Regions from separate parts of the Homo sapiens genome. Here region 1 is linked to region 2. The links come from fine-mapping of genetic effects on plasma protein levels. Region 2 holds a variant in brackets. A gene starts in the other region. All regions are shown on their forward strands.

Region 1 (15,872 bases), not on the chromosome of region 2:
CAGGTGAGGTTGCATGTGAGCCACCTGTGCTGTTAGTGTGGCTGGGGTGTGGCTGGGGTGTGACTGTGTGTGTCAGTGGTTGTTGGTGGCATTGTGTGTGACTTACCCATGTGTCACCTTGGGCATGTTCAGAGGCACTTTGGAGGCACTGTCCACCCCTGAGACCCAGCTCTCTTGGAGGGTCCAGCCTCCCTCCCCACCTCTGCTCTGGTCTGCCAGTACCATCCCCCACCCCTCCCCCACTGGCAGCAGCCCCTGGCCCAGGGCCCCAGTGGGGTGGTGGGGACAGAGAAGGCACTCAGGGCTGGGGAGGGGTGCCCAATCCCAGCTCAGGCCTATAAATAGCTCTTTGAGCCCAGTAGATTCCCAGGCAAGGTTGCCTCATTCAAGCCCCCGGCAACAGCCCGCCCCTGGGCCCCAGGCCAGCCCCTCTAAGCTCAGCCCTGGCACCAGCGAGGAGCCGGGGGGTGGGGGCAAGGGGTGGGGAGGAGTGGAGAAGCGGGGGAAGCAGAAGGATGAGGATAGGTGGGGTTGGGGCTCAGCTCTGCGCCCACAGACCTTGGCTTCCACCTGGTCTCTACTCACTCTGTACATCCTCGGGCAGGTGATCCTAGCTCCTTAAGCCTCAGTTTCCCCAGCACCTGTAAAATAAACAGCAGTCCCTGCCTGTGTGTTTACTTCCCATTTCATTCTCCAAGCAACCGGTAACGTAGGGACATTCATTATCCCCCATTTTATTTATTTATTTATTTAATTTTTTCCCAAGATGGAATCTCACTCAGTCACCCAGGCTGGAATGCAGTGGTGCCATCTTGGCTCACTGCAACCTCCACCTCCTGGGTTCAAGCGATTGTCCTACCTCAGCCTCCTGAGTAGCTGGGATTACAGGTGTGCACCACCCCACCCAGCTAATTTTGAATTTTAGTAGAGACGGGATTTCACCATGTTGGCCAGGCTGGTCTCAAATTCTGACCTCATGATCCATCTGCCTTGGCCTCCCAAAGTGCTGAGATTACAGCCTTGAGCCACCGCGCCCACCCTCCCCCCATTTTATTTTATTCATTTTTGAAATAGGGTCTCACTGTGTCACCCAGACCAGAGTACAGTGATGCAATCTTGACTCACTGCAGCTTTAATCTCCTGGGCTCCAGCGATCCTTCCCCCTCAGCCTCCCGAGTAGCCGGGACCACAGATGTGTGCCACCATGTCCTGCTAACTTTTAAGTTATTTTTTGTAGAGATGGGGGTCTCACTGTGTTGCTCAGGCTGGTCTTGAACTCCTGGGCTCAAGTGATCCTCCTGCCTCTGACTCCCAAAGTGCTGGGATTACAGGCATGAGCCACCGGCACCTGGACTATCCCCATTTCAGATGGGGAAACTGAGACACAGAAAGATGAGATGGCTCACTCAGAGTCACATTGTTACGAATGGCAGGGAGGGGGTTTGAACCCCAGACTTGTGGAGGCTGAGCTACTCGGTTCTCACGCACGTCACGCAGCTGTTCTCAGCGTCTTTCCCAGTGTGAGCCACAGCCAACCCCCCAGCACGCTCCAGCCTCACCGACTAGTCATTGCATGCTGTTTGGGTGCTGCTGACACAGCTGTCACCTGCAGACACTCACATCAGCTGGGATCCTTGACCTCCATCTCTCCTCTGTGACACAGAGTCAAACAGTCAGTGCAGCTTCCCGCTGTATCATCTTGGACCCCAGGGCTACCCCTTGCTCACCTGGGGTCCCCCCTTATCCCTCATTCATTCCTACCCTTTCTTTGATAATCTTTTTTTTTTTTTTTGAGATGGAATCTTGCTCTGACACCCAGGCTGGAGTGCAGTGGCACAGTCTCGGTTCACTGCACGCTCCGCCTCCCAGGTTCAAGTGATTCTCCTGCCTCAGCCTCCTGAGTATCTGGGATTATAGGTGAACACCACCATGCCTGGCTAATTTTTGTATTTTTAGTACAGACAGGGTTTCACCATGTTGGCTGGGCTGGGCTGGTCTCAAACTCCTGACCTTAGGTGATCTGCCTGCTTCAGCCTCCCAAAGTGTTGGGATTACAGGCATGAGCCACGGTGCTTGGCCTCCTTTCTTCTTCTTTTTTCTTTTTTTGATGGAGTCTCACTCTGTTGCCCAGGCTGGAATGCAGTGGCCCAATTTCGGCTCACTGCAACTTGCGCCTCCAGGGTTCAAGCGATTCTCCTGCCTCAGCCTCCCGAGTAGCTGGGATTACAGGCGTCCGCCACCACACCCTAATTTTGATTTATTAGAGATGGGGTTTCACCATGTTGGCTAGGCTGGTCTCGAACTCCTGACCTCAAATGATCTGTCCTCTTGGCCTCCCAAAGCGCTGGGATTATGGGCGTGAGCCACGGCACCTGGCCAAGGCCTCCTTTCTTTGATAACCTTGTGGAAGCTATCTTGTCCCTCATTTGCCTATCCTCCTACCAGATGGACACGCACCCTCAGAGATGCTAAACACACACTCACAGATATAGGACCCAGGGTGGAGCGCTGCGAGCCCATTCTCAGCACAGAAACACCACGACCATAGGAAGGAAGGCAGGGGCAAAGCCTGCCCTCTCTGGGCACATTTCCCTCCTCATGGCTTTTTTTTTTTTTTTTTTTTTTTTGAGACGGAGTCTCACTCTGTCACTCAGGCTGGAGTGCAATGGCATGGTCTCAGCTCACTGCAACCTCTGCCTCCTGGGTTCAAGCGATTCTCCTGCCTCAGCCTCCTGAGCAGCTGGGATTACAGGTGTCTGCCAACACGCCTGGCTAATTTTTGTATTTTTAATAGGGAAAGGGTTTCACCATGTTGGCCAGGCTGGTCTTAAACTCCTGACCTCAGGTGATCCACCCGCCTTGGCCTCCCAAAGTGCTGGGATTACAGGTGTGAGCCACCGAACCCAGCCCTCATTACCATATTTTTAATGGTGGTCAAATACAGATAACATAAAACTCACCATCTTAAAATGTGTAATTCAAGGCCATGCGCGGTGGCTCATGCCTGTAATCCCAGCATTTTGGGATGCTGAGGCGGGCGGATCATTTGAGGCCAGGAGATCGAGACCAGCCTAGCTGACATGGTGAAACCACATCTCTACTAAAAATACAAAAATTAACTGGGTGTGGTGGCAGGTGCCTGTAATCCCAGCTATTCAGGAGGCTGAGGCAGGAGAATCGCTTGAACCTGGGAGGTGGAGGTTGCAGTGAGCCAACATCGTGCCACTGTACTCCAGCCTGGATGACGGAGCAAGACTCCGTCTGAAAAAAAAAAAAAAAGATTGGGGTCTCATGTCTCATGGCAGGGACATGCCTATGCCTCTGCATAAAGCAAAATTATTCATGTGTCAACAGCAGTACCCAGTCCATAGAGTGTGCTACATAAATGCTGATCAGACAAAGGTGAATGAATGAATGATACAATCTGGCTGTAGTTGCTGGAAACAGCTCGGGGGTGTCACACACCTGGACTCCCACCCTGCGTGCCTCTTACCAGCTGTGTGAACAAGGAGTCTCCCCGTCTCGTCCGTGCCTCAGTTTCCTCTCTGTAAATGGGGTAAACCAGTAATTGTAGCCAAAACTGCTTTGAACGTGAGTCCTGGAGAATCAGGCAGGGCGAGGTTCGAATCCCAGCTCTGCCTCTGTGCGTGACCTTGGGAAGCGACTTTGCCTCCTTGGGGCTCAGTTTCCCCACCTGTAAAATGGGACGGCCTCATCCTGGGGCATAATGGGGACGTTTAACGCGGTTCCTGGGGCAAAGAGAATGGGAGGAGAATCGATGCCATCTTCTCCTGGGTGCGGTGAGTGTCCAAAAAATGGGCGGGGTGGGGATTTTAGGCAGGGGAGCCCCCTCCCTCGCGCAGCCAGAGGCCTCGGGCTGGCGGGGGCGCATGCGCAGAGAGCCCTCGCGGCCCCTTTATAAGCACTGAGGCGGCGCTGGGGCCAGCGGAGCGCAGGGCGCAGGGGCTGGACCCGGCGCGGAGCTGGCTGAGTCGGAGCGCAGCGTCCTTTGTGCCCGGCGGCCGCCCCGGGATGCGTCCGAGCTAGGAGCCAGGTGGGGGATCCGTGAGGGGGCCGTGTTGCGGGAGAAGACTTCGGGATTAGAGACAGAGCTCAGGATTAGGGAGAGGACCTGAGACCAGGGAGAAGTCCCCAGAATGGGGAGGGGGCTGAAGCGGGGGAGGGGAGCCCTAGGTTGAGGAGGGAGCGCGAACTGGGAGGGGGCTTGGGAATGCTAGGTGAACAGACATTTGGGGAGGAAGGTTGTCCGCGGAATCCGGAGACTACCCCCCGGTGGGGAGGGGGCCGGGCTGGGGGTGGGTCTCAGGGTTGAGGAGGGAGCAATGGGAAACAGGGCTAGGGGAGGGGCCCCCCGAGTTTGGAGGGAAGAAGAGGACACCCAGATGCCGAATGGGGGACTCTGGAACAGGGCACCCCCGTATCTCAGCCGAGACACCCCAGGATTTTAAGTAGGGATTCCCAATTTGCGGTTGAATGGAGGATTCCGGGCCGGACTGCAGTGGGGAGGGGGCCCCCAGATCACCCTGTGCCCAATGGAAGGGTATCTGCGCTGAGAGCGAACGGCCATGGGGAAGGGGCTCCCTGCCATCTCCCTGTCCTTTTGGGTCAGGTCCGGTCACCACGTTCTGACTCAGGGAGGAGGTCCTGGGGGTCCCCATCCCAACGTGGTTCCCCGTTATTCCCTTAGACCTTGGGTTGAGGTGTTGTCCCTTATCCCAGGGAACACACTGGGTGTCCCAGGTGAATGTTGGGTGGGGGTCCCCTAGACCCCCCAGCTATGGATCCCCAGGACCTGTGAGGGATACCAGCTCAGAGGGGGGGCTGTCCCCCAGCACCTTCACAGCCTCCCACGTCCTTACAGCATGACACAGACCCCTACCCCCACCCCCTTTAGTTCCACCTGTCCATATGGACACATGTGGAAGCGCTGGCTTGGTTTGGGGGCACAGGGGCTGGGAAGTAAGGGGCTGGGAAGTAAGGGCCCTGTCTGGGCAGGAGAGACCCCCATCCCTACGCGTGGGGCTTTGTTCCTCTCAGGCAGCATCAATGAGAAACAGCCAGGCCAGGGAGAGGGTTGGCTCTGGGCCCCAGCGGGGGACGTGGGGGCAGGGCAGGCAGGAAGGGGTGGGTGCACTGTGGGACCCCAGAACCCAGCCGTCGCAATAGCTGATGGACATTCTGAAATCAAGTTCCCCCTCAAGGATATGGGGGTTTTGTGTGTGTGTCCACCCCAGACAGGCAGGGAGGGGGAGTATGCCCAGGGGTTCTAGGGTCCCCTGTGAGTCTGATGTGACTGTGGTTGTGTCTTTGTCAGAAAACTTGTGCCGAGGGCCACATCACCATGTGGCAAAATGATGGGTGTCCATCGGTCACCAAGGCCACAATTATCCATCTCGGTTTGTGCCAGGGGCTGGCATCGCCGTGTGAGTGAGGAGCTATGTCTGATGCTGTTCCGTTCATCAAGGGGTTTATGTGGGGGGGGGGGGGCCCGAGACTGTGGGTGTGTGTCTTTGTGCAGAAGACACGCCGCCTGTCTTGTAAGTGCCCATATTGTCTCTCTTTGTTAATGTCACTGTGAATCTGTGTGAGTGTGTGTTTCCCCAGGGTCTGTGTCTGGGGTGCGTGGCTGTGTGTGTCCCGCTTGTGTATCTGGAGGGGCCAAGGGTTCTTTCCATGCGGTTGGCAGTGTGCACCCTTGGCACGGGGGTGTGGGACGTGGTCTGTGTTCAGAGTTGGGGCGCTAACAGGGAAAGCTTGAGCAGGGGTTGAAATCCCCAAGGGGAAGCCCGGGATGATGACTGAGCCCATCTCCCTTTCTCCTCCACGGAGTTCCACATTCACACCCATGCACACTAATACACCCTGACTCTCAGGTCAGAAACACACACATGTGCGCACAGCCCCCTGCTGAGGGTCACTCAGACTCACACACATCCACAGATCACACTAGGTCCCATGTGCTCCACCCGGTGCACGGAGCTGCTGCAGGCTCACACACACAACATGCACCCACCACATGGCACAACCGCCTTCACACCCTTGCCAGGACACAACACCCCGGACACACACCCAGTCACAAACACTCACAAATGCCCATTGGCAAACTCACCTTCACTCAGTGCTAACGGAGACTTGAGGTGGGGGTGAAGTGAAGGAGGGGACACACACACACTTACACACACACACTCACACACACTCTCTCACACACACACATTCACATGGATCCGAGCTGCCCCTCCTCCAGCACCCCGCAGGCCCCTGCTTGCATATGCATGAGGCTTGTACATTATTCATGAGGGCACGGGCCCCAGACAGCTGTGTAAATGCTCATCTCTGGCCGCCCTGGGGAGGAGGTATTTTAAGAGAAGGGTGTGGGTGTGTGAGGGTGCGAGTGGAAGGGAGTGGGAGGGTGTGTGTGGGGGGTGTGCACCTGAAACTGTGTCTGTCACCATGTTGGGCAACCTCAGTATATTTTTAGCGTATACATGAGGCTTTGTGTCTAAAGAGCTGTTTTTAAATTTAACATTTCTAGGACTTTGCAAGTCTTAGGTCATTTCATCCTCACAGTAGCTGCAGGTGGTACTTGCTGGATAATCTCCATTTTACAGGTGGGGAAACTGAGGCACAGAGAGATTGAAGCAGCTTGTCCCGGATTAGAAGCAGAGCTATCTGGATGTAGTCTGACCTGTTAACGGGGTGTGTGTGTGTGTGTGTGTGTGTGTGTGTGTGTGTGAGAGAGAGAGAGAAAGAGAATTCTCTGGCCTTGTCCTCTCGTAAGGCCCTGCTGGGGGCAGGTGCAACCCGGAGTCCTGTCTCTCTCTAATACCTGGCCAGGCCTGGAACAGCCATGAGGGGACCCCACACTTGCTCAGGGTTCCAAGGGGAAGAAATGAGAACAGCCTGGTGAAGGCAGAGGTTGCTGAGGTTTACAAGTTGGTAGTTGGGAGCACTGGTCCAGGGTCTGGCTTTGACCTCTACCCTGCTGTGCAGCCTGAGGCAAACCTCTAGCCCTCTCTGGTCCCTGAGGCATCGTGTTAGCAGGCAGGAGGCAGGGGTGGACTAGGTGGGCTTTGCCGCTGCGTTGCCGCCTCAGAGTTCAGCACCACGGACAGGTCCCAGGCCGGCCTCCCAGCAGGGGACTCTGGGAGCTGGGAAGGAGAACTGGGGAAAGGGACAGCTGTCACATACAGCCTCCCCTTCTGGACTCCGTTCACACCCCTTCCTCAGGGATAATTTCTTATGGGGGCGGGGAGCAAGGATTGGGTTTGCAGATGATGTTCTAATTTTCCATCTGCGCCCACCTCCTGAGCCCTGGTGACCGGGGTTCGCAGGAGTGGGAGGTTTTGGGGAGGGACCACCTCCCCAGGATTCCTAGTCTCTGGAACAATGTGAAGTCAGGAAATGCACTGCTGTGTCCCAACGACTGGCATGGGCTTTGCTCACAGTAGGCGCTTAATAATTGTCCACTTTATCCCTATGGGTCCTAGCCCCTATAGGGAAATGGACCCACAACTGAAGTTTCTCTGTGGGCCTAAGAAGTATCTTTGTTGAGCTGTGTGAAGTCAGGAGGAGGATGGGTGGGCAGGGGTGAGCCCCTTCCTCCAGCTGGGAGTTGGCGGCTCCTCCAAAATCCCAGAAACCAAGAATAGAATCTTGGTGACAACCAAATCCTGGAATTGAAGCTGCGAATCGTGTCAGCCAGCAAACCCAGATTAAAGGATGGCTTAGAGGCCAGCCTGCTGCCTGGACTGAGGATGCTGGGAGGACTGGGACAGACTGCTGCCCTCTAGGAGCCGCCAGTCTGATGGAGGAGGCTGACTTGAAAAATGGTATTTCAGTCTTGGCTGTGTTAAGGTCGGTAATAATAATAGCAGCAGCTAAAATGTACCCCTTACTGCATGAGACAGTTCTAAGCATTTTATATGTATTGACTCATCCATTCCTTTCAACTACCTGATGTTATCCCCATCTGACCCACAAAGAAAGTAAGGCACAGAGAAGGTAAGCAACTTGCCCAAGATCACACAAAAGGAACAGTGAGCCAATTCCAGATTTGATTCACTACCAGCACCCAGGCTTCTGACCACAGACTTCATTGCTTGGATTGTTTTTTGTTGTTGTGTTGTGTTTTGTTTTGTTTTCAGTCTCGCGCTGTCACCCAGGCTGGAGTGTGGTGGTGGAATCATAGCTCACTGCAGCCTTGAACTCCTGGGCTCAAGCAATCCTCCCACCTCAGCCTCCTGCATAGCTGGGACCACAGGTGTGCGCCACCAAGCCCAGATAATTTTTTTTTTTTTTGAGACAGAGTCTCACCCTGTCGCCCAGGCTGGAGTGCAGTGGCGTGATCTCGGCTCACTGCAACCTCCACCTCCCGGGTTCAAGTAATTCTCCTGCCTCAGCCTCCTGAGTAGCTGGGATTACAGGCGCCTGCCACCACGCCCAGCTAATTTTTGTATTTTTAGTAGAGACGGGGTTTCACCATGTTGGTAAGGCTGGTCTCGAACCCCTGACCTCGTGATCCACCCTCCTCGGCCTCCCAAAGTGCTAGGATTACAGGCGTGAGCCACCACGCCTGGCTGCTAATTTTTTAAATAGAGGTAAGATCTCACTATGTTGCCCAGGCTGGTCTCAAGCTTCTGGCCTCAAGCAGTCCTCCCACCTCAGCCTCCCAAAGTGCTGGAACTATAGGCGTGAGCCACCGCGTCCAGCCACTGCTATTCTGAGGTCAAGTGGCCCTGGGTTCGAATTCTGGCTCAGCCCTTTGCTGGCTCCTTCTGTGACCTAGAATAACACACTGGTCTCTCTGAGCCCTGGTTTCCTGATCTGTAGAGTGGGGGAGTTTGGTCCTGCAATGCTGAATATCTGGGAGGGTTGGGCTGTGGCTCACCCCTCCCTCCCTCTCCATTTTGTTCCAGATCCAGGATGGGGGCCCCGTTTGTCTGGGCCTTGGGCCTTTTGATGCTGCAGATGCTGCTCTTTGTGGCTGGGGAACAGGGTGAGTTGGTTTGTGGGGAGGGAGAGATTGGGGTCTAGGGGATGGACAAGATGGGGCAGCTTTTGAATTCCAGAGCCTTCTCCTGCTGGTCTCCTGGCATGGGCTAGAGAATAAAATGAGAATAGATTTTAAAAGGTCTTTGAACAGTCAAAAGCGAACAGGATACCTAAGAGGTTATTTTTAGTCATTGTCAGCAGAAGCTGGAGATTCCCGCCTCTCATCGTTTTGCTCAGATGAACTGGAGAGAAAGAAAGAAAGAAATGAGAATAGTGCAGAGATTGATTAGTGATGTCTGCCAAGGGTGGAGCGATGGAAATAAAGGTCTGTGTCCCTCTACTGGTGGTCAAGAGCCCAGGTTTTAGAAATCCCTCACAGATTTGGTCTGTGACCTTAGGCAAGTATAATTATCTCTCTGAACTTCAGTTTCCTCAACTCCCCCCAAAGAGAATGAGACATTGCTACTCTGCAGATGGTTATGAAAATCAAATGAGCTGATTGCTATAAAGTGCCTGTTACAAAGATGGTACTCTGCAAACACCATTTCCTTTTCATTAGCTGTCTTTTGCTTTACCTTTCGGAAAAACTGGGGCTCAGGGAAGGAAAATGCCTCTCCCAGGGCCATACAGTGAATCAGTGGCACTGGAGTGAAATCCCTGTCCTTATAAAAATAAAGTGAGGGGCTAGGCACAGTGGTTTATGCCTATAATTCTAGCACTTTGGGAGGCTGAGGCAGGCAGATCACTTGAGGTCAGGGGTTCCAGGCTAGCCTGCCTAACATGGTGAAACTCCGTCTCTACAGAAAATACAAAAATTAGCCAGGTGTGGTGGCACATGCCTGTAATCCCATCTTCTCGGGAGGCTGAGGCATGAGAATCGCTTGAACCTGGGAGGCGAAGGTTGCAGTGAGCCGAGATCATGCCACTCCACTCCAGCCTGGGTGACAGAGTCAGACTCAAAAAAATAATAATAAGGCTGGGTGTAGTGGCTCACCCCTATAATCCCAGAACTGTGGGAGGCCAAGGTAGGTGGATCAGTTGAGGTCAGGAATTGGAGACCAGCCTGGCCAACATGGTGAAACCCATCTCTACTAAAAATGCAAAAATTAGCCAGGCGTGGTGGCACACACCTGTAATCCCAGCTACTGGGGAGGCTGAGGCAGGAGAATTGCTTGAACTTAGGAGGCAGAGGTTGCAGTGAGCTGAGATCATGCCACTGCACTCCAGCCTGGGAGATGGAGCGAGACTCCATCTCAAAAGTATAAATAAATAAAAGAATAATAATAATAAGGGGCTGGGCACAGTGGCTCATACCTATAATCCCAGCACTTTCGGGAGGCTGAGGTGGGAGGATTGCTTGAGTCTAGGAGCTTGAGGCTGCAGTGAATCATGATCATGTCACTGCATTCTACCCTGGGCGATAGAGTGAGACTCAATCTCTAAAAATAGTTTTTTGTTTTTTTTTTTGAGATGGAGTTTCGCTCTTGTTGCCCAGGCTGGAGTGCAATGGTGCGACCTTGGCTCACCGCAACCTCTGCCTCCCGGGTTCAAGCGATTCTCCTGCCTCAGCCTCCTGAGTAGCTGGGATTACAGGCATGTGCCACCACACCCAGCTAATTTTGTATTTTTAGTAAAGACAGGGTTTCTCCATGTTGGTCAGGCTGGTTTCAAATTCCTGACCTCAGGTGATTTGCCCGCCTTGGTCTCTCAAAGTGCTGGGGTTACAGGCATGAGCTATCGCGTCCAGCCACTGCTTGGATTCTGAGGTCAAGTGGCCCTAGGTTCAAATTCTGGCTCAGCCCTTTTAAAAAATTTTTTAAAAGAGGGAAATAGCAGTCCCTGCTTGGTTCTTGCCTCTGAATCAGGCCCTCTCTCCACCTTCTCCAACCCAGGCACACAGGATATCACCGATGCCAGCGAAAGGGGGCTCCACATGCAGAAGCTGGGGTCTGGGTCAGTGCAGGCTGCGCTGGCGGAGCTGGTGGCCCTGCCCTGTCTCTTTACCCTGCAGCCACGGCCAAGCGCAGCCCGAGATGCCCCTCGGATAAAGTGGACCAAGGTGCGGACTGCGTCGGGCCAGCGACAGGACTTGCCCATCCTGGTGGCCAAGGACAATGTCGTGAGGGTGGCCAAAAGCTGGCAGGGACGAGTGTCACTGCCTTCCTACCCCCGGCGCCGAGCCAACGCCACGCTACTTCTGGGGCCACTGAGGGCCAGTGACTCTGGGCTGTACCGCTGCCAGGTGGTGAGGGGCATCGAGGATGAGCAGGACCTGGTGCCCTTGGAGGTGACAGGTCAGTTGGGGGCAAAGGAGGGGCCGGGGGCCGGGGAGAGGGAGGGCTGAGCCTGGAGCCCACCCACTGAATGTCACCTTAGAAATCACTCCCTGAGACCTGGCCTGGTGTCTCATGCCTGTAATCCCAGCACTTTGGCAGGCCAAGGCGGGTGGATTGCTTGAGCACAGGAGTTCGAGACCAGCCTGGGTAACATGGTGAAACCTCGTCTCCACAGAAAATACAAAAATTAGCCAGGCATGGTGGCACATGCCTGTAGTCCAGCTACTTGGGAGGCATAGGTGGGAGGATCACTTGAGACTGGGAGGTTGAGGCTACTCCACTCCAGCCTGGATGACAGAGGGAGACCCTGTCACAAAAAAAAAAAAAAAAAAAAGGAAAGAAATCACTCTCTGAACCGGGATTCCCTTTGAATTCTTCTGATAAAGTCCTAAAGTCTTTATGGTGCCTATAATCTGAGCACTTTGGGAGGCCGAGGCGTGTGGATCAGTTGAGGTCAGGAGTTTGAGACCAGTGTGGCCAACATGGTGAAACCCCGTCTTTAAAAAAAAAAAAAAAAAATTAGCCAGGCATGGTGATGCATGCCTGTGATCCCAGCTACTTGGGAGGCTGAGGCAGGAGAACTGCTTGAACCCAGAAGGTGGAGGTTGCAGTGAGCTGAGATTGAGCCACTGCACTCCAGCCTGGGCCACACCGCGAGACTCTGTCTCAAAAGAAAAAAAACGTCTGTATCAGTATGGGTACTATCTTGTCTTTAACACCTCTCTTTTTTAGCTATGAGAGAGGAGTCTCCAGCTCAGACTTCTGGGGGCCACAATATCTAGGCAGGATTTTTGTTTGTTTGTTTTGAGATGGAGTCTCACTCTTGTTGCCCAGGCTGGAGTGCAGTGGTGCTATCTAAGCTCACTGCATCCTCCGTCTAGGCAGGATTTTACTTGGAGTCAATTTTATGGTTATCTGATTTTATGTAAGACAAAGGATACTGGCTTTCTATTTAAAATAGAAATAAAAAATTCCTTGTAAAATAAACTTAAGTTTTTTTCTAAGTGAGGCAATTTTTTAAAAGTAAGTTAATTTAAGATGTATATTAAATATTAAGCAAGAACAATTCTCAAATACCTGTTTAGGCAATTCTTTTTTTTTTTTTTTTTTTTTTTTGAGATGGGAGTCTCGCTCTGTCTCCCAGGCTGGAGTGCAGTGGCATGATCTCAACTCATCGCCAGCTCTGCCTCCCGGGTTCACACCATTCTCCTGCCTCAGCCTCCTGAGTAGCTGGGACTACAGGCGCCCGCCACAGCGCCTGGCTAATTTTTTGTATTTTTAGTAGAGACGGGGTTTCACCGTGTTAGCCAGGATGGTCTTGATCTCCTGACCTCGTGATCTGCCCACCTCGGCCTCCCAAAGTGCTAGGATTACCAGGCATGAGCCACCGCACCTGGCAACCAATTCCTTTATTAAATTCTTCTTGTTGAGCTGCGTGTGGTAGTGCACACCTGTAGTTTCAGCACTTTGGGAGGCTGAAGAGGAAGGGTCACTTCAGCCAGGAATTCAAGACCAGCCTGGGAAACATAGCAAGACCCTGTCTCTATTAGAAAAACAAAAACAAACAAACAAACAAAAAACAAAAAACGGGGATGGGGGCCCAGTGGCTCATGTCTGTAATCCCAGCACTTTGGGAGACCAAGGCAGGAGAATCACTTAAGCTCAGGAGTTTGAGACCAGCCTGGGCAACATAGTGAGACCTTGTCTATACAAAATTCCAAATTCCAAAACATTAGCCAGGTATGATGGTGTGTTCCTGTAGTCTTAGCTACTCAGGAGGCTGAGGTGGGAGGATTGCTTGAGTCCCAAGAGATCGAGGCTGCAGCGAGCCTTGATCATGCCACTGCACTCCAGCCTGGGCAACACAGCAAGACCCTGTCTCAAAAATAATAATAATATGGCTGGGCGCAGTGGCTCACGCCTGTAATCCCAGCATTTTGGGAGGTCGAGACGGGTGGATCATGAGGTCAGGAGTTCGAGACCAGCAGATCATGAGGTCAGGAGTTCGAGACCAGCCTGGCCAAGATGGTGAAACCCCTTCTCTACTAAAAATACAAAAATTAGCCAGGCATGGTGGCACATTCCTGTAACCCCAGCTACTCGGGAGGCTGAGGCAGGAGAATCGCTTGAACCCAGGAGGTGGAGGTTGAGGTGAGCCGAGATTGTGCTATTGCACTCCAGCCTGGGCAACAAGAGGGAAACTCCATCTTAAAAATAATAATAATAATAATAATACAACTAAATAAGCCAGATGTGGCGGCTCACACCTCTAATCTCAGCATTTTGAAAGACTAAGGCAGGAGGATTGCTTGAGCCCAGGAGTTCAAGACCAGTCTGAGCAAGATGGTGAGACCTCGTCTCTACAAAATTTTTAAAAAAATATTAGCAGGGCATGCTAGTGTGCGCCTGTAGTCTCAGCTTGTCAGGAGGCTGAGGTGGGAGGATCGCTTAAGTCTGGAAGGTTGGAAGCTGCAGTGAGCTGAGATCGCACCACTGCACTTCAGCCTGGGTGACAGAGGGAGACCCTGACTCAAATAAATAAATAAATAAATAGTCAAAAACTAAAAATAAAGAACAGGGTTTGGCACACAGTAGATGCTCAATAAATGACTCAGTGAATGGATTATTGTACAGCAAACATCCCGTGGACTCCTGCTGGGAAACCTGTTTCCCTTAACTTAAATTGACCTTGGGCAAGTCCCTGATTCCTGTCTTGGGGCTTAACCTGCATGCCCCCAAACTGGGAACTGGGGACACAGTGTCTTACCACATAGTTTATGGAGTCAACCAGTCATCCCCTTTCAGAGGCCTCATTTCTGAAAATTGATAAAAGCTAACAACAACAACAACAACAAACTGATTGGTGGTGAGGCAAGTGAATTCCACATCTAGGTAACTTCAATTTCATTCATTCAGCCAAACTCTTTTTGTTGTTGTTTGAGACAGAGTCTCACTCTGTCACCCAGGCTGGAGTTCAGTGGTGTGATCTTGGCTCACTGCACCTCTGCCTCGTGGGTTCAAGCGATTCTCCTGCTTCAGCCTCTGGAGTAGCTGGGATTACAGGTGCACACAACCACACCTGGCTAATTTTTGTATTTTTAGTAGAGACAGGGTTTCACCACATTGGCCAGGCTGGTTTCCAACTCCTAGCCTCAAGTGATCTGCCTGCCTCGGTCTTCCAAAGTGCTGGGATTACAGGCATGAGCTGCTATGCCCGGACATTCAGCCAAACATTTATTGAGCACCTACACTGTACTGGTCCAATGCTGAGGACACAGAGCTCTCAGTTGGATAAGCCAGAGCAAAGTGTTTCATTTCATTGTCTTGTTCAGCCATTTCTTTCATCCCTAAATCAGAATTTGAATCACAGTGAGCCTGTTACCAGGGCTTCACATCCTGGCTTACATGTCACCTCCTCCAGGAAGCCTTCCAGGACCACATTTCCAGGCCAGGCAAGAACCACATTTGGGCCGGGCGCGGTGGCTCATGCCTGTAATCCCAGCACTTTGGGAGGCTGAGGTGGGCGGATCACGAGGTCAGGAGATCAAGACCATCCTGGCTAACATGGTGAAACCCCATCTCTACTAAAAATAGAAAAAAATTAGCTGGGCGTGATGGCAGGCGCCTGTAGTCCCAGCTACTTGGGAGGCTGAGGCAGGAGAATGGTGTGAACCCGGGAGGCGGAGCTTGCAGTGAGCTGAGATCGCGCCACTGCACTGCAGCCTGGCGACAGAGTGAGATTCTGTCTCAAAAAATAAATAAAATAAAATAAATAAAATAAAAAATAAATAAATAAATAAAAAAGAACCACATTTGGTCTCCCATTGCTGCCTGTGCTTCCCTATTAGCGCATGCACTTAATTCCTAAAAGGCAGAAACTCTCTGTCAGCCTTCTCCACACCTCCTGCCACCTCCAGGGCCTAACCCTGGGCATGAAGAGTGCTATCTTTGGAGTCAGATCTCTCTGAATTTGAATTCTGGTTCTGTTTCTTATTTGCTGCGTGGGCCTGGACCTGTCCCTCAACCTTTCTGACCCTAAGTTTCCTCCTCTAGAACAATCAGATTTGTTGTAAGAGTTCAATAAGATAATGCTTATAAATGCTTTTCTTTTTTTTAATGTTTTAGTTTTTTTGAGATGGAGTCTTGTTCTGTCTCCCAGGCTGGAGTGCAGTGGCTCAATCCCGGCTCACCGCAACCTCTGCCTCCTGGGTTCAAGCGATTCTCCTGCCTCAGCCGCCCTAGTAGCTGGGATTACAGACGCATGCCACCATGCCCAGCTATTTTTTGTATTTTTAGTAGAGACAGGGTTTCACCATGTTAGCCAGGCTGGTCTCGAACTCCTGACCTAAAGTGATCTGCCCACCTTGGCCTCCCAAAGTGCTAGGATTACAGAAGTGAGCCAACATGCCTGAACGGCCGTAAACGCTTTTCACATTGTAAATATTTGCTAACTTGTAACCCTTTATGGCCATTGTTATCAGTTTCCTCATCTGTAAAATGGGGGCATATGGATCTTGCTCCCCA
Region 2 (8,000 bases):
CAGCATTTAGGCCTGGCTGCAAATTTCACCATCATGCCCGGGGGCCCTGCTTTCTGCTGATGTTTCAGCCAGGAATGCCAGGCCCTTCACCCCTCACCCTGGCTTGCATTCAAATGACCCCTGCCTCTGTCTCCTTCACCAGACTTTCTCCTCCTCCTCTATGCCTACAGAACACTTTTACCAACTCCACTACAGAACTTTCCACCTGAATTGCTTGTTAACATGGTATAGCCCCCTAAAAATGTGTCCTTCTGAGGAGCAGAACTTATTCAAGTTTATAACCCCCAAGGGTCTAGCCCCAAACCTGGTGTATCTCTGTGTGTGTGTGTGTGTGTGTGTGTGTGTGTGTGTGTGTGTGTGTCCATGTGTGTGTGAGTGAGTGAGAGAGAGAGAGAAAGAGAGAGAGACAGAGAGACAGAGAGAGACTGTGTTATGCCAATATCAACATAAACAGCAGCTAACACAATGGGGGTCTGGGCCCACGTGCCTCTCTGCTAATCACTAACTTTCATGATCTTCTCTGACCCTCACAATAAACCTGTCATAGAGGATCTATTATTACTCCAAACATACTTAGACTCAAAAAGGCTAGGACATTTGCTCAAGGTCCCGGCACTAGTAATTGGTAGGACTGGAATTTGAACCAGGCTCATGTAAGCTCATAAATCAAGACCCTTCTCCACCACACTTACTTGAAGGGGTAAACAGAGACTGAGCAATATGTGGGAGGAGTGGGTGGGAGGCTGGGGAGGGAGGTATGGAATAAATAATCATGGAAGGGGATGGCAGATGGAAATTAGAGAAATTAATACATCCAAGAATGTTCTCAGGGTTTTGGTCAAACCATGGACTGACTCACCAATATAAAGACCACTCTCCTTGTCATCCCAAACCATTCACCTTCAAGTATCCACGGATCTGCACTGTCACTTTCTTAGCCCAGGTCAACCTGTCACCCATGTGGATCCTTGATCAACACAGCACTAAAATTGTATGTAAAACTGGCTTAGCTAATACTCATTAGCTAGCCACACTTAGGCACATTACGTATATTAGCTTCTTGAATCCTCACAACAATCCCCATGGATAGGTATCATCATCATCCTCATCATCATCATCCTCATCATCATCCCCATCCTTGTTGTAAGGTTTTCCAGCAAGCAATGGAAGACGGGGACTTGAACCCAGGTAATCTGCCACCTTCACCACAAAGTATAGCCATCGTTGATTGTGTCCTTACACTGCTCTAAGCATCTCCCCATGTCTTCTGCTTTAAGCAAACTTATGAGATGGGGAGTGTTTTCATTCCAATTTTACAGATGAGGAAACTTACGTTCAGAGTTCAAACCCTGAATTCTGTTCAGGTGTTTGGGGAGGTCAAACCCACCAAACACCACCCAGCCAAGGCCACGATCATTCACTGATCCTGCAGCTTTATGAGAATAATAAAAAAGATTCCCCTTACTCTGGGCAATTGCAGCCCTGAGTCTACAGTATGCCTTGATGACCAGAGTGTAGGTGAATTTTGGCTCCTACTTAACTCCCTCCTGTAGTTATATCCTGAACAAGCATACGCAGAAACACTGCAGCCAGCTAAAAATAGGCAGAACTGAGATTCAAACCCAGGCCTGGCGTGGATCTAGTTTTTCATCATGTAGATGCTCCATCACCCACTCAGACACCACTCCCCCTCTTTTTTTTTAATCCAGTTCAAGAATCAACCCAATCCAAGGCTGCTCAATTAACGCTCAGTGCAGTATCCTCAAGCAGGCAAACGCTCAGAACGTAGACGGATCCCTCTAGATCATACTCCTCCCACCTCCTGGGGCTGTGGCCACTTCATCACAGTCTCAGAAAAAACTCTGGGCTCACAGAAGGTAACTCTGCACCATGAGACAATTTGTCGAATCCTTGCAGCCGGTACCGCATGTGGCCAAATCTCCCCACCCCAATCAGGCAGCCACTTCACACAGTGACCTTTCCTGATCTGCACTGTCAGGCTGCAATTTAGCCATTCTGAGGACTCTGTTGGAGGCTGCTTCAGCCAAAAGCTTGCCTCTGGGGAGCCCTCCCAGGGCCCTGGACTCCGTTCAGATGTCACTTTGCATTAAGGGCCCACTGTGTGGGGCTCCTGGAGAGGAAGAAAGCAAATCTCTGCTGAATGTCCCTAAGACAGAAGTCAAGTGAGGAGCAGGGGAGGCAAAAGAAAGACAGACAGACAGACGCTGGGCATCTAAAGAAGGGGTGGAGGACTGGTAGTTCCAACTGGCAGCAGAAATAATAATACCAGGAGCTTAACATTTACCAATCACTTAGGAAAAAAGATTAATACTAAGTGAGAGTTTAAGATGTGCCAGGAACTCTATTAGGCATAATTTTTCTTTTTTTTTTTTTGAGACAGGGTCTGGCTCTGTTGGCCAGCTGGAGTGCAGCAGCATAATCGTAGCTCACTGCCACCTCAAGTGAGGCTCAAGTGATCTCCCACCTCAGCCTCCCGAGTAAATGAGACTACAGGCATACACCACCAGCTAATTTATTTATTTATTTGTAGTAGAAGATGAGGTCCTACTATGTTGCCCAGGCTGGTCTCAAACTCCTGAGCTCAAGCCATCCTCCCGCTTCGGCCTCCTAAACTGCTGGGATTACAGGTGTGAGCCACTGGGCCCCACCTAGACATAATTCTTCAGGTGGGGGCCGGTAACAGTTACTCCTCCCTTCTCCAATATAAAAATAGTGCAGTGTCCAAGCAGAGAGGCTACAAGATAAATCAATTGCCAGCAAAACCCTTGGTGTATAACTTAGCTATACAGTTTCACTCATGGCAAGAGTAACGGCAGCTGGGATTTCTTACTTACCTCCTACCTGTCAGGGATTGTGTGTGATTCTTTTGTTCTTCTTGGGGCTTGTCTTATTATGCTTATTGTAGACCGACTGTACTGATGGTCCCAAGCAATGGCCTGCTGTATGCTTGCCCTTGGCAATGTGCCCTGCTGCTTCTCCCAAGAGGTTGAGATGACTTGTCCATACCTTGAATATGGGCAGGTCATGCGACCTGCTTTGGCCAAAAGAAGGTAGCAGAGGTGACCCTAAGTTTGGCTTCTCTGTCTTGGAACCCTGTCACTGCCATTTGCTCTCTACTGGAGGATGAGAGACCACGTGGAGGCGAGTCCAAATGACTTTCCTCTCAGTTGAGATAATCCTAGACCAGCTTAGAGGCAGCCAATCTCCAGACATGACAGCCCAACTGAGATCAGGAGAACCACCACTGAGACCAGAAGAACCATCTAGCTCACCCAAAGACTCTTGAACAGTAACAAATAAAAATTTCTTACCGTTTTACCCCACTGAGTGTTGAGGTGATTTGTTAAAACATCCCAAGAATACAATAAATAGATTTTTTTAAAAAACCTGAGCCTCAGAGACATAAAGTCACTTGTCTAAGGCAACCCAGCTGATAAGAGATGGAGCTGGGATTCTACACCATTGTAAGTTTTCATCCACGATGATCTATACCTAGGGTCAAGAAATCATTTTCTGTAAAGGACTGGCTAATAAATATTTTAGGCCTTGTAAGCCATACAGTCTCTGCCTCAACCTCTCAACCCTGCCATTGTAGAGTGAAACCAGTCATAGGGCGTATGTAAATGAATGGTGTGCTGTGTTCCAATAAAACTTTATTTCTAAAAACAGGTGGAGGGCCAGATTTGGCCTGTGAATGGCAGTTTGCTACCTCCTGCTCTAGGTTGCTTCTCTGTATCATCACCATTTGTGCCAGCTTTTTTCCCCTTTCTCTGTCTGTCGCCTCCCTCTTTCCCTCCTCTAGAATTTCCACATAAAATCCCGCAATTGTCTTCTGCCATGTTTATGTTCTACCCTGAGACA[T/A]GTGACAAGTACCTCTCAACTCAAGGGGCTTTGTTTCCCCAGCGTAAGTGTGTCTCAACTCCCTGATTTCATAAATCTATGTCATTTCCAGAAATCAGTTTGACTGATGTGTTTTCCCAATGTTAGGATGATATCTTTCTGGATTCCCTAGGTATGGGAATTTAAAAAGTTCTGATTGCATTCCAAATCCAAGACCCAACATCATCAGGGTGACAGTTGAGAATGCAAATGACTCCTATTCAGAATATTAAAAACAAAAGCTTCAGTTCTGTACCTAGGAAAATTTGACTGGCTCCAAAAAAAAGTTTGCAAAAAACCAAAATGAAAACAAAACAAACGCAAACATGCAAACAAAACAAAACCCCAAACCCAGAGTGATGCAGAGGAAAGTCTAAGAGCTGTTTCATGATCCCACACACCCCGTCTCTGGGGCAACCTCTCTGTAAGAAGCAAGAAAGGAAGATGACGATGACTTTCTGCAGAGAACAAAAATTTGGCTTGAAGCAAATGAAATCCCAGTGATTTTCCATTTTAAGGATATCTATCTCATCCAAAAAATAAAATGTTATAATAGATTTCATTTTTTCCATCTCTTTCTTGTTCTTTTTGCCTCTTAGCTGTCCTACTTAGAATATCGAACCGTGTTGGCAATCAAAGTAGACTCTGAACTTGGCTACTTTCTCCTCAGTTAAAAGAAAAAGAAAAAGAGGTAGACTTGAGTGTTTAGCAAAGCAGCTCATCCAGTTTAGAGGCTGAAAGCCACATCTTCAAAATTTCAACCAAGGAAAGTTAGGGTTAGTGTCAAACTTTCCATAATTTTTAACAACTTTCTAAGTAAAACTAGAGATGTCTATCTGGACTGACTTTAATTTTAAAAGTCTAAAGCACCAAAGGCAGCGGAAGGTCCATCTCATGTTTCATTACGGTTAAATTCTATTTCCAAGAACCACCAACCTCAGTCCCGGGACCTGGCATGGATGAAGCTATTTCTGGAGGCTGCCATGACTCTTGGAGCCAAGAACAAAGTGGAAGGAGACGCCTTACAGGCAGGGGCCTTCAACCGCATGGAAGTACCAGCAGATCCTGTGTTCAGAATCCCCTACTGTACTCTTAGCTCCCCAAACTGTTGAATCGACCCAAGGAGGTGTCAAAGCCTACCATGGAGCATGCACTTGTAAATGTCTGCAAATGACATGGGCTTTCTCTGTGTTAGATGTGGAATAATCACTACTAACATAATTATCTCCATTATAAAGATGAAGAGACTGAGGCCAAAGTCCAAGGCCCACAGCTAGTGAAGGGCAGAGCTGAGATTCACAGCCAGCTCATCTGACTTCAGGGCCTATCTGAAACATGACAAAATAACTGACTTGGTAAATGATCCTATTAATTTGGGTGATCAGATAGAGGTGGTTACAATGTCCTGGGGTGGATCAACACCCTGGCTCTGCCACCAAATCCTGATCCTCCTCAGGCCACCTGACAATTGTCTTATTTTATTCATTTATTTATTTTTGAGACACGGTCTCTGTCACCCAGGCTGGAGTGCAATGGCGCAATCATATCTCACTGCATCCTCAGCCTCCCAGGCTCAAGGGATCCTCCCACTTCAGCCTTCTGAGTAGCAAGGACTGCAGGTGCACACCACCACACCTGGTTAACTTTTTTTTGGCAGCGACTGGGTTAATATATGATTTAGTGGGCACCACCACACCCAGCTAACTGGCTATTTATGACTTTTTTGTAGAGAAGAGGTTTTGCCATGTTGCCACAGGGCTGGTCTTGAACTCCTGGACCCAAGCGATCTTCCTGCTTTGGCCTCTCAAACTGCTGGGTGTGGGTGTGAGCCATTGTGCCTGGCCTAATTGTCTCATTTTAAAAGAACTTTCATTCAATGAGCAGCATATGTAAGATGTGGGACCTGTGAGGTTGGCAGGCTGAGGTTATTTCCCATTACACAGATGTCGAAACTGAGGCCCAGGGGTCCTGCCCACTGTTACCCACCTGGTAGTGGCACAGTCAAGTATGAACAACAGATCCTGTGTGTCCAGCCCAGAACCAATAGAGGGGTTTGGATTTGGGTGGGGTGGAACACACCCACCTCAATTTTCCCAGCCTCTGTCTGTTCTAAGGCCAGAAATCCTCTGAGGCCCCTGAGCTGTGTTTTCCTAAAGCTCTGAAGGTCAAATACGGTGCTGAGGACCTCACACTTAGAATGTGCTGAGAAGGGGTACAGGAATGAAAGCTGCTGGCTTAAGTGAAAGACATATACAAAAAGACCTGGAAATTGTATTTTATCGCAATAGCTATTTATTCCTGCTGTTCGGTGTTACAAAAATGCCATGTTCCAAAAAGGCTTAAACAAAAGACACTGTTCCACTGACCAAAAATTAAACAGATAAAACACAGTGTGGGGACGAGGTGTGGTAAGGAAAGGAATGAAGAGAAAAGAATATGATAGGATGGCCAGGCACGGTAGCTGACACCTGTAATCCTAGCACTTAGGGAGGCCGAGACCTGTGGATCTCTTGACCCCAGGAGTTCAAGACCAGCCTGGGCAACATGGCAAAACATCGTCTCTACAAAAAAACCCATAAATAATTAGCCAGCTAGCCGGGCATGGTGGTGCCCACTAAACCATACACACACACACACACACACACACATATACACATATATATCTGTGTGTGTCTATATATATGTTTTTTGAAAGGTTCTAAATATTATATATATTATATATACATGATGGGAAATTCAATTTGCCACCAGAAGCATTTAAAATAATACCATAGGTTTTATGAGAGATATGACCTCTGTCTCTGAGCTTATGAGACATGTGAGAGATATGAATTGTCTTTGAGCTTCCTAGCAGGCAATGCAAAGAGGGAAACACAATTAGTTATTTGAATCTGTGTCACAGACGAGATTCCTCACTTCACAAAAAAAACTCTCCCATCTCTATTTTTTTCGTGTTATTATCTCTTGATTGTGTTCTGTTTCTCACATATCAGTTCCATCTCTGTATTTGCTGAGCTGATCTGTGTATCCAAAATGACCTGCTGTGCAGGGCTCTTCACAATAGCCCCTGAAATTCAGAGAGGCTGGCTGATGTGGATCCCTGTACAGCTCTGGTATAGTCAAGTGTTTATTTACTGAGCGTCACCTGAACAGACTGGCGATGAAGGAGAAGTTTAAAACCACTTTGGTAGGAGACGATGCCACCAGAATAGCAATGGGAAATGAAGCAGAGAAATCCCTGGCATTAAAGTTGAAGTGAATGAGAAAAGCACATTTGTGTTGACATCATCCCTGTTGGCCCACACATGGTCTTTCAGAAACACTTTCCTGCACAAAGTGGGGCACATGGGAATACAGAGGCCACTTCCTCACATCTCTCCACACTTTGCCCAGTCCCACGGTCAGGGATGAGACGTTCATCCACTTCATCTCAGCCCTGAGCACTAAGGGGGCCACAGTGGGCAGGGTCACTGTGTGGGAGCCTCAGGAACCAGGACTCTGGCACATGCTGGGCAGCTCCATGCAATGGAATTGTAAGCTGAGTTGGGCTCCCTGCAGGCATGGGAGCATTTCAGAGCCAAAATTCCCACCTGCAGCTACAAGCAAAGAGAGTGGAGGTCCTACTTTAGCTAACCCGTAAAGCGGGCACTTCCAAGAAGACTTTTACTGGAACTCTGTGCTAGAAGATTGGGAAGTTGATTCTCTGTCGGCTACCCCCACTGCTGCCTAGGGGTCCTGGAAGGTTGGGAGGGGAGGAGAGGTGACTGCAGGACAGGGTATCATGGCATCCCCGAGTTTACCTCCACCAAACACACCCAAAACCTCTGTTTAACACCCAACAACTAGTATTTAATTTTCATTCCGCTGACCTGGGAGCATCTCTCTAATGGAACTTCCACTTAGCATAGCCACTGAAGTTCCCCAGGGACAGTGGTACCAATTAAATAACGTGACACTTTGGAGGTGTAAAGCTATGTATTTACTCCCAAACCAGAGGCTTGGGTAGTTTTTAACATAAAGATTTTCTCCCTCCTTTTTTTTTTTTTTTTTTTTTTTTTTGAGACTGAGTCTCCTTCTGTAGTGCAGCGGCACAATCCTGG

Direction of the effects. Alleles are on the strand shown, and positions count from the first base shown. The strength of an association depends on the size of the effect and on how common the allele is.
For the plasma level of the protein whose gene starts at base 3,948 in region 1, A is the low allele of the variant in region 2 and T is the other (weak association).

Evidence for each region. A credible set is the group of variants that fine-mapping cannot tell apart. PIP is the posterior inclusion probability: the model's chance that the variant is causal. The UK Biobank Pharma Proteomics Project read protein levels with antibody pairs (Olink). The fine-mapping took linkage between variants from a reference panel, not from the people measured, so its PIPs are less certain.
Region 1: it holds the start of NCAN, and the variant in region 2 is the best candidate, but not a certain one, in a credible set for the plasma level of the NCAN protein (UK Biobank, PIP 0.63).

What each region holds. Positions count from the first base shown.
Region 1 is chr19:19,208,011-19,223,882 of GRCh38, forward strand. It overlaps NCAN (neurocan), which reads left to right and starts at 3,948. Exons shown (of 15, transcript NM_004386.3): 1 at 3,948-4,054; 2 at 8,937-9,016; 3 at 10,905-11,306. The coding sequence starts at 8,944. RefSeq lists enhancers at 3,750-4,044, 5,597-6,097, 6,098-6,598.
Region 2 is chr16:17,285,559-17,293,558 of GRCh38, forward strand. All of the region lies in intron 2 of XYLT1 (xylosyltransferase 1), which reads right to left. Among named protein-coding and RNA genes, the nearest start is that of XYLT1, 180 kb to the right of the region's middle. The variant T/A (reference allele first, on the strand shown) is at 3,883.